Linked DNA regions of Homo sapiens. The protein of the gene in region 1 interacts with the protein of each later gene in a pairwise test. Each region holds a gene or a part of one and is shown in the gene's direction. Other genes may lie near its edges.

Region 1 (3,749 bases):
GAGAAGGCTTTCCTAAAGAAATGATAATGGAGCTGAGGTCTGGAAGAAGCATAGGAGTTTCCTGAAGAGGGTAGGAGGGGGCACTGCACACAGAGGGAACAGGACAGTCAAAGGCAGGCCATTTGGCAACAGGTGACTGGAAGGAACTGGAAGAAGGCCCATGAGGCTGAAGTACAGAGTGAATATGCAGGGTCTAGGCAGACCATGCAAGAATGTGGGTTTCTCCTAAGAGCAATAGGAAGCCTTTTGAGGTGCTCTTAGCAGGGAAGTGAGATGATCACACTTATCGTTTGAGAAGATTACTCTGGCAGCACAGTGAACAACGTATTGGAATGGAACCAAGGAGCATTCAGGAGGCCAGACAGAAGGTATCAGGTATTTGCCTGTAAAATGGGGGTGATGAGAATACTATCTTACAAGCTGTTGCCAGGATCCAATGAGATACTGCATTTTAAGTGTCTAGTCTAGTACCTGGCACATAGTAAAGGCTCAGTAAGCGTCGATATTGTTACTTTTATCATTGGTTCTTTGCAGAGTGCACATATTTCTTATCCAGGTCTGCTCCTGCGTGATGGGGTGGAGGGAGTAGTTGTGGTTTCCAGAGTGAAAACGTGATTTGTGTCAAATCACAATGTCGAGACCAGAATCCAGGATGCCTGAAGGCCCGATTAGAATGGCTTAAAAGTATGGATTATTCAGGAAGAAAAACGGGTTCCAATCGCTCCTACTAAGGACGCTGGAGGGATGGTGAACGATCCTTTAGATGGTAAGCCCTAGCACTTATTGAGAAAAACAGGTGCTTCTTTGGTCGGAGAGCAGGTGTAGGGCTCGCAGCCGCGTGCGCTCCCGCGGAGGCGGGGGACCCTCGCCACTCCCCCGCCCCACGCCCACCCGCGGGCTTCCGACTGCACCTGCTCCCCCGGCTCGGAAACGCGGGCCGGGTGCCGGGCTGCAGGCAGAGGGTGCCCGGGGGAGGAGGTCCCGAAAGCCTCCTCCACACGCCTGCACCGGCTGCCCCCTCCCCAGTCACGTGGCCCGGTGGGTGGGGACCGACCTGAAGTTGGAGAAATCCGGAGCGCTCCCAACCTCGGAGGGAGTCGCCAGTCCTCCGGGCCCGGGCGGTGGACCCTGGAGCCCCGGCTGGCGGCGTGGAGGTGCGTTTCTGAGAAGCCGAGCAGCGGCGCGGGCGGCGGGACTCGAGGCATGGCCCGGCTGTCGGTGATCCCCGGGTCGGCCACGGCGTGGACAGGTGAGCAGGTACCCGCGGCCAGCGGCAGAGATGGCCGGGGCTGCCAGGGCATCGGGCCCCAGAGCCCACGCCAGTCCAGGGGATGCGGGGCCCCCACGCAGGAGGGGGCGGTTGGGTGAAAAGGCCGCGGTGGATTCTCGGACTGCCGGGTCAGTCCCCACCAGCGCCGCCGCCTCCTCGCCGGCTTTGCCACCGGGTGAGCAGGGGACGCGGGACGCGGGACGCGGGACGCGAGGGAGCCGCGCGGGGCGTGGACTCTGTGCCGGCCCCGCCCCCCGCGCGCGCACTGGCTGCTCCCCGCGACGTCACGCTCGGCTATAAAAGGCGCGGCTCGGGGCCCTTGCGGCGCTGGAGGAGCTCGAGGCTGAGGCTGCCGGGGGGCTGTGGGCTACCGGGCCGCCGGCGCCTCAGCGATGTTTTACTCAGGGCTCCTCACTGAGGGCGGCCGCAAGGAGACCGACATGCGGGAGGCGGCGTCACTGCGACAGCAGCGCCGGATGAAGCAGGCGGTGCAGTTCATCCACAAGGACTCCGCCGACCTGCTGCCCCTGGACGGCCTCAAGAAGCTGGGCTCGTCCAAGGACATGGTGAGCCCCCGCCGCCGTTCTCGCCCCGGCCCCGGCGGCTTCGCGCCCGCCGTTTTCCGAGGCCCGGCCGTTGCGGCTTTCACTGAGTCACGGCCCGGCCCGCCGCTGCCCTTGGCTCGCGGTCGCTGCGTCGCGGATTCCTCCCCTTCCAGTACCCCTGCTGCGGTTTCGGTGGGGATTCCGTCGTAGCTTTTCTAGCTTGCGCTCCCCTCGGCTGTGCCTCCTCCCTGGATGTCTCTTCTCCAGTAGAAAGAAGAGGTCCTGCCCTGCCCTCTTGCCCTCGGGTCTTCTTTCTTTTTCCTTATTCTTAATACCGAATTTTGTTCACGGGGCTTGTGCCTCCTATGCTGTGTGGCTGTTCCTATGACCCAGACAGAGGTGATTCCTAATGGCTTTCCGTGAGGGGGAAAGAAGTGGAAAGAGGGTTTTTTGACAGTTGCCAGATCCAGAGGACTTCTGTTGAATCCATTGTCCCCCTATGCAAAACCCACTTCTCTAGTTTTGGTCCTAACTTTGACCTTCCATCCTGAGTGGGGAGAGAGAAAAGGGGCCAAATGTGAAGGTTTCCTGAACCCCCAACATCTCTTCATCATTCTCCTCTTCCAGCCCCGCCCCCAAGGAGTGGGTAGAGGGAGGAAGCCAGGCTGCTGCATCTCACCGACCAGCTAATGTGTGCATCTGGAGCTGGGGTGGGTGCAGTCTTTTTTTCTAGCACAGTTGTTCCTGGCATTAAGTAGAAGCACCTCAGGACAGGGGGCCTGGGGTCAAAGATGGTACTGTCCTCTTTCTATAGAATGGGATGGATGGCTAAGGGTTACCAATATAAAGAACTGTATTTGTCATCCCTCAGCCACTGTAGTGGTCCTGGGCCAAGTTTATGTTTAACTTTGTAGTTTTATCTGGAGTTTTCTTGTAGTTTGATTGTTTTCTTGAATTTCACAATCGCTTTATTCATTTGGGTGGTAATATGTGAAACACTAATTAAATGTCTTTTAACAAATGAAATAGGTGCTCTGCATAATTTTTCTAGTATTTTTTATTTTAAGCTTTTGAAATATTTAATTTTGGATGTGGTTGTCGGCCCTAGTTCACTGAAATTGCCATTTCTGGCCCCAGGAGGGCAGAGCTTCTGCATCCATTTCCTTTTTTTTTTTTTTTTTTTTTTAATTTAACAGCTCTAATGATACACAGGTACATTATATTATACACAGTATAATATAATATACAAAAATTTTTCTCCTCCCTGCCATTAGTTACTTCTGTGCAGAGTTTGTCTACTTCAGTTATCTTGCTCTGTTTTTTTTACAAGTTGTGTTTTTTTGTTTTGTTTTGCTTTTTGCACAACCCACAGGATAGTTTATCTGATTTATGCTAACCCAGAGTGATAAGTGATTGAAATGTGCTCCTGCAAAAGAGATAACTCTCTTTTCCCTTCTTTCACTTTAAAGCAATCTCGATTCATTTAACAAATCAGGTTCGAGAAGTATTCTTTCCTTCAGGCCAAATAATCCTATCCTAGTTCCTAGAATGCTCAGCAATCAATAAAGAAGGAAGTATTATATTAAGAGAAGAATTAAAATACAGAGTTTTTAAATGCTGGATTTGGTTGTCCCTCGTTGTCGAGGAGTTTCCTAGCCCTGAGAGCTACCTGAACTTCCTTCTGCCTAGGATTTCTTATACTACTTCATGCTGTGTAAGAATTCCATCCGCTTTTCTGACTCTAGTCTGTCTCAGTTGAGTCACAAAGGGCTGATAGCATACAGCACAGGCAGCAGGCTGCAAAGAGGAAGGAGCCTCAAGAAGCAGGATATTGCCTTGAGTATGACACATACACATGACAGTTGACTGTAAGGCTCTGAATCATGGTTCACGCTTTCTGTGCCCCACCGTCATGGAGTTGATTTCCCTCTCTC
Region 2 (3,749 bases), on another chromosome or scaffold:
TAAATTAAACGCAATGACTTAAATACACACAATTAAACTGTATTCCTTTTCCAGGGACCTGAAAACCCTTTACTAACACTGTTCTCATTCATCTTCAGAAGACCCATAAAGGTAGCCATGGTTACTGTTACTAAATGTACAGATATAAAATGCAGGCACACAGAATCAGTGACCTGGCTATGTCATAATATCAGTAATAGAACCAGTACTAAAATCCCTATTATCTTCTGCACTTTCGCCAAGTGCCCCTTCTAAATCTGATCATGCATGTAAAATTACTTAAAATACTCAAACCAGCCATGGGGCTCCTGGTTTTTGCCTGACGGAATTACTTGGTCAAAGGGTTACCCAGTACCAGGGTCAATTTGTATAATTTCCAGTACTGTGGCACCTAGATTTATCAAATTTATAAAATTTTCAAAGAGGAAGCTACAGAAGAAAATGACCACAGACCCTGTAAACTGTGGTCTAACCTAGTCTATCCACACAAACACACACACACAAACACACACACACAAAACTATCAGCTTCTGTATAAGCAACGGTCTGCCAACTCAACCCTGGAGCCAACCCAGACCTAATCTGCACTACCTGCCACGTATCCTGTTGAACTCTAATTAAAACCAAGACATCCTCATCTTCCCTTCTTTAAACCAAACCTATACACTTGAATCGAGCTACACCTACCTCATGACAATCCCACCTTAATCTACTCAAACCGATTCAAAATCCCCAATATATATCAACCTGCCTCGCCTCTCTCACCAATATTCACCAAACTCTTAACCACCCAAATTGCCACTAGATGCCACTAAATTAGAGACCTCTCTCTCATCAAGTCCCTTCAAATAAAGGTCTCTCTTCATCTCACCTCCTCATCTAATCGAGCAGACATTTTACCCTACCCCAGTCCTATTCGTGCAGATACCGATACCAACCCCATCCACCCCTTCGCGCAACTATACCCCTAACTCCGACCCAGCCCAACTCGCCCCCCTCAGGCCAGCAACGCCGTAGGTTGTAGTGGGATTTAACTCCTTCTGCAGCGCATGCGCCGAAACCACAGATACAAACAAGGAGGGGGTGGGGGAAGGAGGAAGGAGCTTAAGACACTCCTGGAGAGTAGTGCACACCCTCCCATTTGGGCTCGCGCTGCTGCCGTTAAGGCGGGAACCGGCGCGATCTCCATTCCAGCGCGAACCTCATCAACCACCGTGCGCGCGGATCCAGAGGCTCGCGCTGGCGGCCTGAGCGAGCTCGCGCCGAGCCCGGATACTGCGCCTGCGCCGCGGCAGAGGCTCGTCTCTACCGGGTCCGCTCTCCTCCGACACCCCAGCAACGCCGACTCCTCACCCCTTTGAGCCGCTTGACCAGGGCACTCTTCTGCCCGCTCTTGGCTAGGCCTCGCTGCTCCAGTGCGGCCTTCAGGTCGGTCACCCGCAGCGCCTGAAGAGGCTTCCCGTCCAGAGTCACCTCCTCCAGCTCCGCCATCTTGCGTGAGGTACTCGGGTCCGTCCCGACGGCTTCGGGCATCTTCGGTAATTTCCGCCAACGCCCTTCGAACGTACCGAGATGACCCCGCCCACTGCCATACTCTACCCCTCGATTACCACTCAGAACTCCCCGGGTTCCTCCGGATGTCCTCGGATGTTTCCGTCTCCACATCGTTACCAATCAATTCTTTCCATCCGCCCTGCAGCGCCCCTTTTCTCGCCCTGCTTTCAGGCTCGGTTTTCTTCGTCTTGCCGAAGCTTTGAATCGAATATATTCGGAAACCCTCGACCCTGGTATAACCATAATCGGAGATGTTCGTTTATTTCCGGACCTAGAGATGAGGCGCTGGGGCGCTTGGGTGTTTGGGGCGGGTCCGAGGCCGGAAGTGCGTGGGCTGCCGGGCTGGCCCAGCTTAGGGTTTTCAGGAAATTTGGAAGCTGCCGCAGTAGTTGGAGTCTAAGGACTCGTGACAATCTTCGGGTGCCCTTCGAGAGAAAAGGGGAGGTAAGCGGGGTAGAAGTACCTCTATGGGCCGGGTCAGACTCGGTGTTTGCGGATTACCTTAATAGGGCAAGCCCCCCACTCCTTAACGCAAACAGCTTCTGCCCTCTGTCCTCTGAATCATAGCCACTCCCATCTTAGGCTTTTTTTGGGGAGGGGCGGGGGGCTGGTGCGGAATCGGAATAACAAGCTCCGTGGGGGTGCGCAAGAAGCATCGCCGTGTCTTCGGACCCAGACTATGAACTGATCTATGACGCTGAACTTGAGTTTGAGTTTGCCTTGGAAGCCATGTGGCAAGATTCTGGGAAAGTTCTTCCTTGCTCCGCAGAAGAGAGTAAGTTCCCTTGGAGGAACTGCTTCCTGTAGGGCAAGAACTGGAAAATGCAAGCGCCCTGAACTTTTTTGGTACTTGAACTAATATTAATTGTTTAGGGGCTTCTTTCTTTGTCACTACCAATCCTCCAACTTGATGCAGAAGAAACACAAACAGTAAAATAGGTCACAGACAAATAGTTTAGAGATTTAAGAGATACGTTAGAGATTTAAGAGACTGAAAACTATTAAAGTCAAATTGGCTGATCTTTCCGTTGCATTCATGATGCAAAATCAGTGGCAAGGTGCCGGGCGCGGTGGCTTACGCCTATAATCCCAGCACTTTGGGAGGCCGAGGCGGGCGGATCACTTGAGGTCAGGAGTTGGAGACCAGTCTGGCCAATATGGTGAAACCCCGTCTCTACTAAAAATACAAACAAATTAGCCGGGCGTGGTGGCGTACGCCTATAGTCCCAGCTACTCGGGAGGCTGAGGCAGGAGAATCGCTTGAACCCAGGAAGCAGTGGTTGAGATCACGCCATTGCACTACAGCCTGGGTGACAGAGCAAGACTCCGTCTCAAAAAAAAAAAAAAAAAAAAAAAAAATTGCAAGGCACCAATAGATACCATACTAAAAAAAAAAAAAAATTTTTTTTTTGTCACTCCACTCTGGGTCCCTCCACTCTGACGCAGGCTGGAGTGCAGTGGCGCGATCAGGGCTCACTGCAGCCTCAACCTCCCGGGCTCAGGTGATGCTCCTACCTCAGTCTCCTACGTAGCTAGGACTACAGGTAGGCACCTCTACGCTCAACTAATTTTTTTATTTTTTGTAGGGATGAGGTTTTGCCATGTTGCCCAGGCTGGTCTCGAACACCTGGGCTCAAGCGATCCTCTTGCCTCGGCCTCTCAAAGTGCTGAGATTACTTTGGAAGTGCAAGAACCACCGCGTCTGGCCCATACTAAATATTAAGGACAATTGTTTAAAGACATGGATTGTCATAAAATAGTATAACACTTGTTAGATCTCTAAGCCAACAAACCAACTGGACTCTTTTTTAAGAACGTCTCAAACACCCGGGCTTCTGGTTCTTTCATGCGTTACCTTATTTTGAGCAAGGTCCTTACTCTGCTTTTTAACTTTTCCTGGTGCTTTACAGGAAATGTAAGGAGGTAACGGATGTTATGGAGTTGTTGGCATATTTCAGAGGCTTATATGCACATTGAAGGCTCTTTCATCATAAATAATGTTTTTTCTTTCTTCCCCCACTGTTGATAGCTGCAAAACAATTAGCATCAGCCTTGACCAGCTGCACGTACTAGATTTTAAAATGTGTGCATTTTCATTTTGGAGAAGATGTAATGGACCAACATTAATCATTGTTTTTTTCTTTACCCAACCTGGCACATAGAAGTAAGAGGAAGAGAATGAACAAGAAATATAT
Region 3 (3,749 bases), on another chromosome or scaffold:
TCCCAAAGTGCCGGGATTCCAGGCGTGAGCCACCACGTCCGGCCTTATTTTTATTTTTTGCAGTGATGTCATCTCCATATGTTGCCCAGGCTGGTCTCAAACTCCTGAGTTCAAGCGATACTCCCACCTCAGCCTCCCAAAGTGCTGGGATTACAGATGTGAACAATTGCCCAGTGATCACAAGGGTTTTCTTCAGGGACAAAAAGATACTTTTCCTTCTCCAACGTTACTCAAGAGTAGGAGGAATTCAGGTCCCTCCCTCTCATTCCAACCTCTAGAAGTTCCCTGTAACTTCTTTTTTTTTTTTTTGAGATGGAGTCGTACTCTGTCTCACAGGCTGGAGTGCAGTGGCGCGATCTCGGCTCACTGCAAGCTCCGCCTCCCGGGTTCACGCCATTCTCCTGCCTCAGCCTCCCGAGTAGCTGGGACTATAGGCACCCGCCACCACGCCCGGCTAATTTTTTGTGTGTTTTTAGTAGAGACAGGGTTTCACCATGTCAGCCAGGATGGTCTCGATCTCCTGACCTCGTGATCCACCCGCCTTGGCCTCCCAAAGTGCTGGGATTACAGGCGTGAGCCACCGCGCCTGGCCGTTCCCTGTAACCTCTTTGTCTGAGGTCAGCTAGCCATTGCTAGGCATCCTGATCCTGAGAATTCGTTAAATGTTTCTGGAACTTGGCGGGCCATCTAGGTCTCAGATATAAGAGAAGTGGCCTGAGGTTCTCCAGGATCTATCTGCATCCTCTATTCATGTAGGGCTGACTTGGAAGTGGGACCTGGCATGCGGTGGTTGGGATATTGCCGCACAAGGATGAGGCAGGATACAAGATGCCTCAGTTCTCAATTAGCTCAAAATTATGTCCCTTCGTGTATAGGAGCCTATCTGCCTATCACTATTTTTTTTTGAGACAGAGCCTCGCTCTGTTGCCCAGGCTGGAGTGCAGTGGTGCAATCTCAGCTCACTGCAACCTCCGCCTCCTGGGTTCAAGCAATTCTCCTGCCTCAGCCACCCGAGTAGCTGAGATTACAGGTGCCCACCACCACACCCAGCTAATTTTTGTATTCTTAGTAGAGATGGGGTTTCACCATATTGGCCAGGCTAGTCTTGAACTCCTGACCTCAAGTGACCCACTCGCCTTGGCTGCCCAAAGTGCTAGGATTACAGGTGTGAGCCACCGCACCTGGCCGAGCCCATCTCTTCTCTCTGAGCCATGTCTTGTTTTATTCCGTTGCCTTTGGAGTTGGTGGTTTGGGAGGGGAATAATTACTTAAGAGAGACACAGAATAGGCAGGGTGCGGTGGCTCATGCCTGTAATCCCAGCACTTTGGGAGGGCGAGGTGGGCGGATCACGAGGTTAGGAGTTGGAGACCAGCTTGGCCAATATAGTGAAACTCTGTTTCTATTAAAAATACAAAAATTAGCTGAGCATGGTGGCAGGTGCCTGTAATCCCAGCTACTTGGGAGGCTGAGGCAGGAGAATCGCTTGAACCAGGGAGGCGGACGTTGCAGTGAGCCAAGATTGTGCCACTGCACTGCAGCCTGGTGACAGAGTGAGACCCTGTCTCAAAAAACAAGGGAGACCAGAATTTTGTTTTTTTTATTATTATTATACTTTAAGTTCTAGGGTACATGTGTACAACTTGCAGTTTTGTTACATATGTATACATAACGCCATGTTGATGTGCTGCACCCATTAACTCGTCATTTACATTAGGTGTATCTCCTAATGCTATCCCTCCCCGCTACCCCCGCCCCAGGACAGGCCCCGGTGTGTGATGTTTCCACCCTGGAGACACAGAATTTTCAAATTTCAGAACAAGTCTGGGCGCAGTGGCTCACGCCTGTAATCCCAGCACTTTGGGAGGCTGAGGTGGGTGGATTACTTGAGGTCAGGAGTTCAAAACCAGCCTTACCAACATGGAAAAACCCTGTCTCTACTAAAAATATGAAAATTAGCTGAGCGTGGTGGTGCATGCCTGTAATCCCAGCTACTCAGGAGGCTGAGGCAGGAGACTCGCTTGAACCTGGGAGGCGGAGCTTGCAGTGAGCTGAGACTGTGCCATTGCGCTCCAGCCTGGGCAACAACAGCGAAACTCCATCTTGAAAAAAAAAAATTCATAACTAGAAGCCACCTTATATCAAAAATTCTAGGATTCAGCACCAGCTCTGAAGCTGGAGCATTGCTTGAGGCCAGGAGTTCAAAACTAGCCTTGTCAACATAGCAATACCCATTTCTACAAAAGAAAAATAAAAAAATAGCCAGTGTGGTTGTGGTGTTGTATACCTGTAGTTCCAGCTGCTCAAGAGGCTGCAGGAGGTCAAGGAACCGTGAGCTATGATCATGCCACTGCACTGTAGCCTGGGGACACTCTAGCAAGACCCTGTCTCCAAAAAAAAGGCTAGGTTTCCCTTAACAAAACACTATTATCTTTTTTTCTTTTTTTTTTTTTTTCACCCAGGCTGGAGTGAAGTGTCACTCTTGCCCAGGCTCAAGTGCAGTGTCGCAGTCTCGGCTCACTGCAACCCCCGCCCTCCGGGTTCAAGCAATTCTCCTGTGTCAACCTTCCGAGTGGCTGGGATTATACCCGCCTGCCGGTATAATCCGGCTAATTTTAATATTTCTAGTAGAGATGGGGTTTTGCCATGTTGGCCAGGCTGGTCTCAAACTCCTGACCTCAGGCGATCCGCCCACCTCAGCTTCCCAAAGTGCTGGGATTATAAGCTTGAGCCACCATGCCTGGCCTTTTTTTCTTTATTTTATTTCTTTATTTTTTTATTTTTTGAGACAGAGTTTCGCTCTTATTGCCCAGGCTGGAGTGCAATGGCGTGATCTCGGCTCACTGCAACCTCTGCCTCCTGGGTTCTAGCGATTCTCTTGCCTCAGCCTCCCTAGTAGCTGGGATTACAGGCATGTGCCACCACGCCTGGCTAATTTTGTATTTTTAGTAGAGATGGGGTTTCTCCATGTTGGTCAGGCTGGTCTCGAACTCCCGACCTCACTCAGGTGATCCACCCACCTTGGCCTCCCAAAGTGCTGGGATTACAGGCATGAGCCACCGCTCCCGGCCCTTTTTTTCTTTCTTTTTAAAGTTTTTCTTAGGGTACATCAGCAGCCTTTTTATTTTATTTTATTTTATTTTAATGAGATAAGGTCTCACTCTTTTACCAACAGTGAGACCCTGTCTTTAAAATAAATTAAATAAATAGAAACCAGCCAGGTATGGTGGTGGGTGCCTGTAGTCCCAGCTACTTGGGAGGTGAGGCAAGAGGATCACTTCAGCCCAGAAGTTCAAGTCTGCAGTGAGCTGTGATTGTGGCACTGCTAAAGTGCAGTTGGTGCCATCTCAGGTCACTGCAGCCTTGACCTCCTGGGCTCAAGCAGTCCTCCCACCTCAGCCTCCTGAGTAGCTGGGACTACAGGTGCGCACCATCACGCTTGGCTAATTATTATTATTATTTCTGAGACGGAGTCTCACTCTGTCTCCCAGGCTGGAGTGCAGTGGCACGATCTCGGCTCACAGCATCCTCCACCTTCTGGGTTCAAGAGATTCTCCTGCCTTAGCCTCCCAAGTAGTTGGGACTACTGGCTCCTGCCACCATGCTTGGCTAATTTTTGTATTTTTAGTAGAGACAGGGTTTCATCATATTGGCCAGGCTGGTCTCGAACTCCTGACTTTGTGATCTGCCCACTCAGCCTTCCAAAGTGCTGGGATTCCAGGCATGAGCCATTGTGCCTGGCCACACCTGC

The links.
Region 2: the proteins of NRIP3 (region 1) and C14orf119 interact in binary tests that used the Homo sapiens proteins (3 or more experiments, as listed by UniProt).
Region 3: the proteins of NRIP3 (region 1) and NUTF2 interact in binary tests that used the Homo sapiens proteins (3 or more experiments, as listed by UniProt).

What each region holds. Positions count from the first base shown.
Region 1 is NC_000011.10:9,001,849-9,005,597, reverse strand, and holds the start of NRIP3 (nuclear receptor-interacting protein 3), read left to right. Parts: upstream 1-1,596; 5' UTR 1,597-1,662; coding exon 1,663-1,836; intron 1,837-3,002; exon of another isoform or gene 3,003-3,683; intron 3,684-3,749.
Region 2 is NC_000014.9:23,093,622-23,097,370, forward strand, and holds the start of C14orf119 (uncharacterized protein C14orf119), read left to right. Parts: upstream 1-1,883; 5' UTR 1,884-1,998; intron 1,999-2,011; exon of another isoform or gene 2,012-2,329; intron 2,330-3,749. Other genes in the region: ACIN1 (apoptotic chromatin condensation inducer in the nucleus), read right to left, coding at 1,354-1,665.
Region 3 is NC_000016.10:67,849,914-67,853,662, forward strand, and holds part of NUTF2 (nuclear transport factor 2), read left to right. Parts: intron 1-3,749. UniProt on the Homo sapiens protein: Mediates the import of GDP-bound RAN from the cytoplasm into the nucleus which is essential for the function of RAN in cargo receptor-mediated nucleocytoplasmic transport.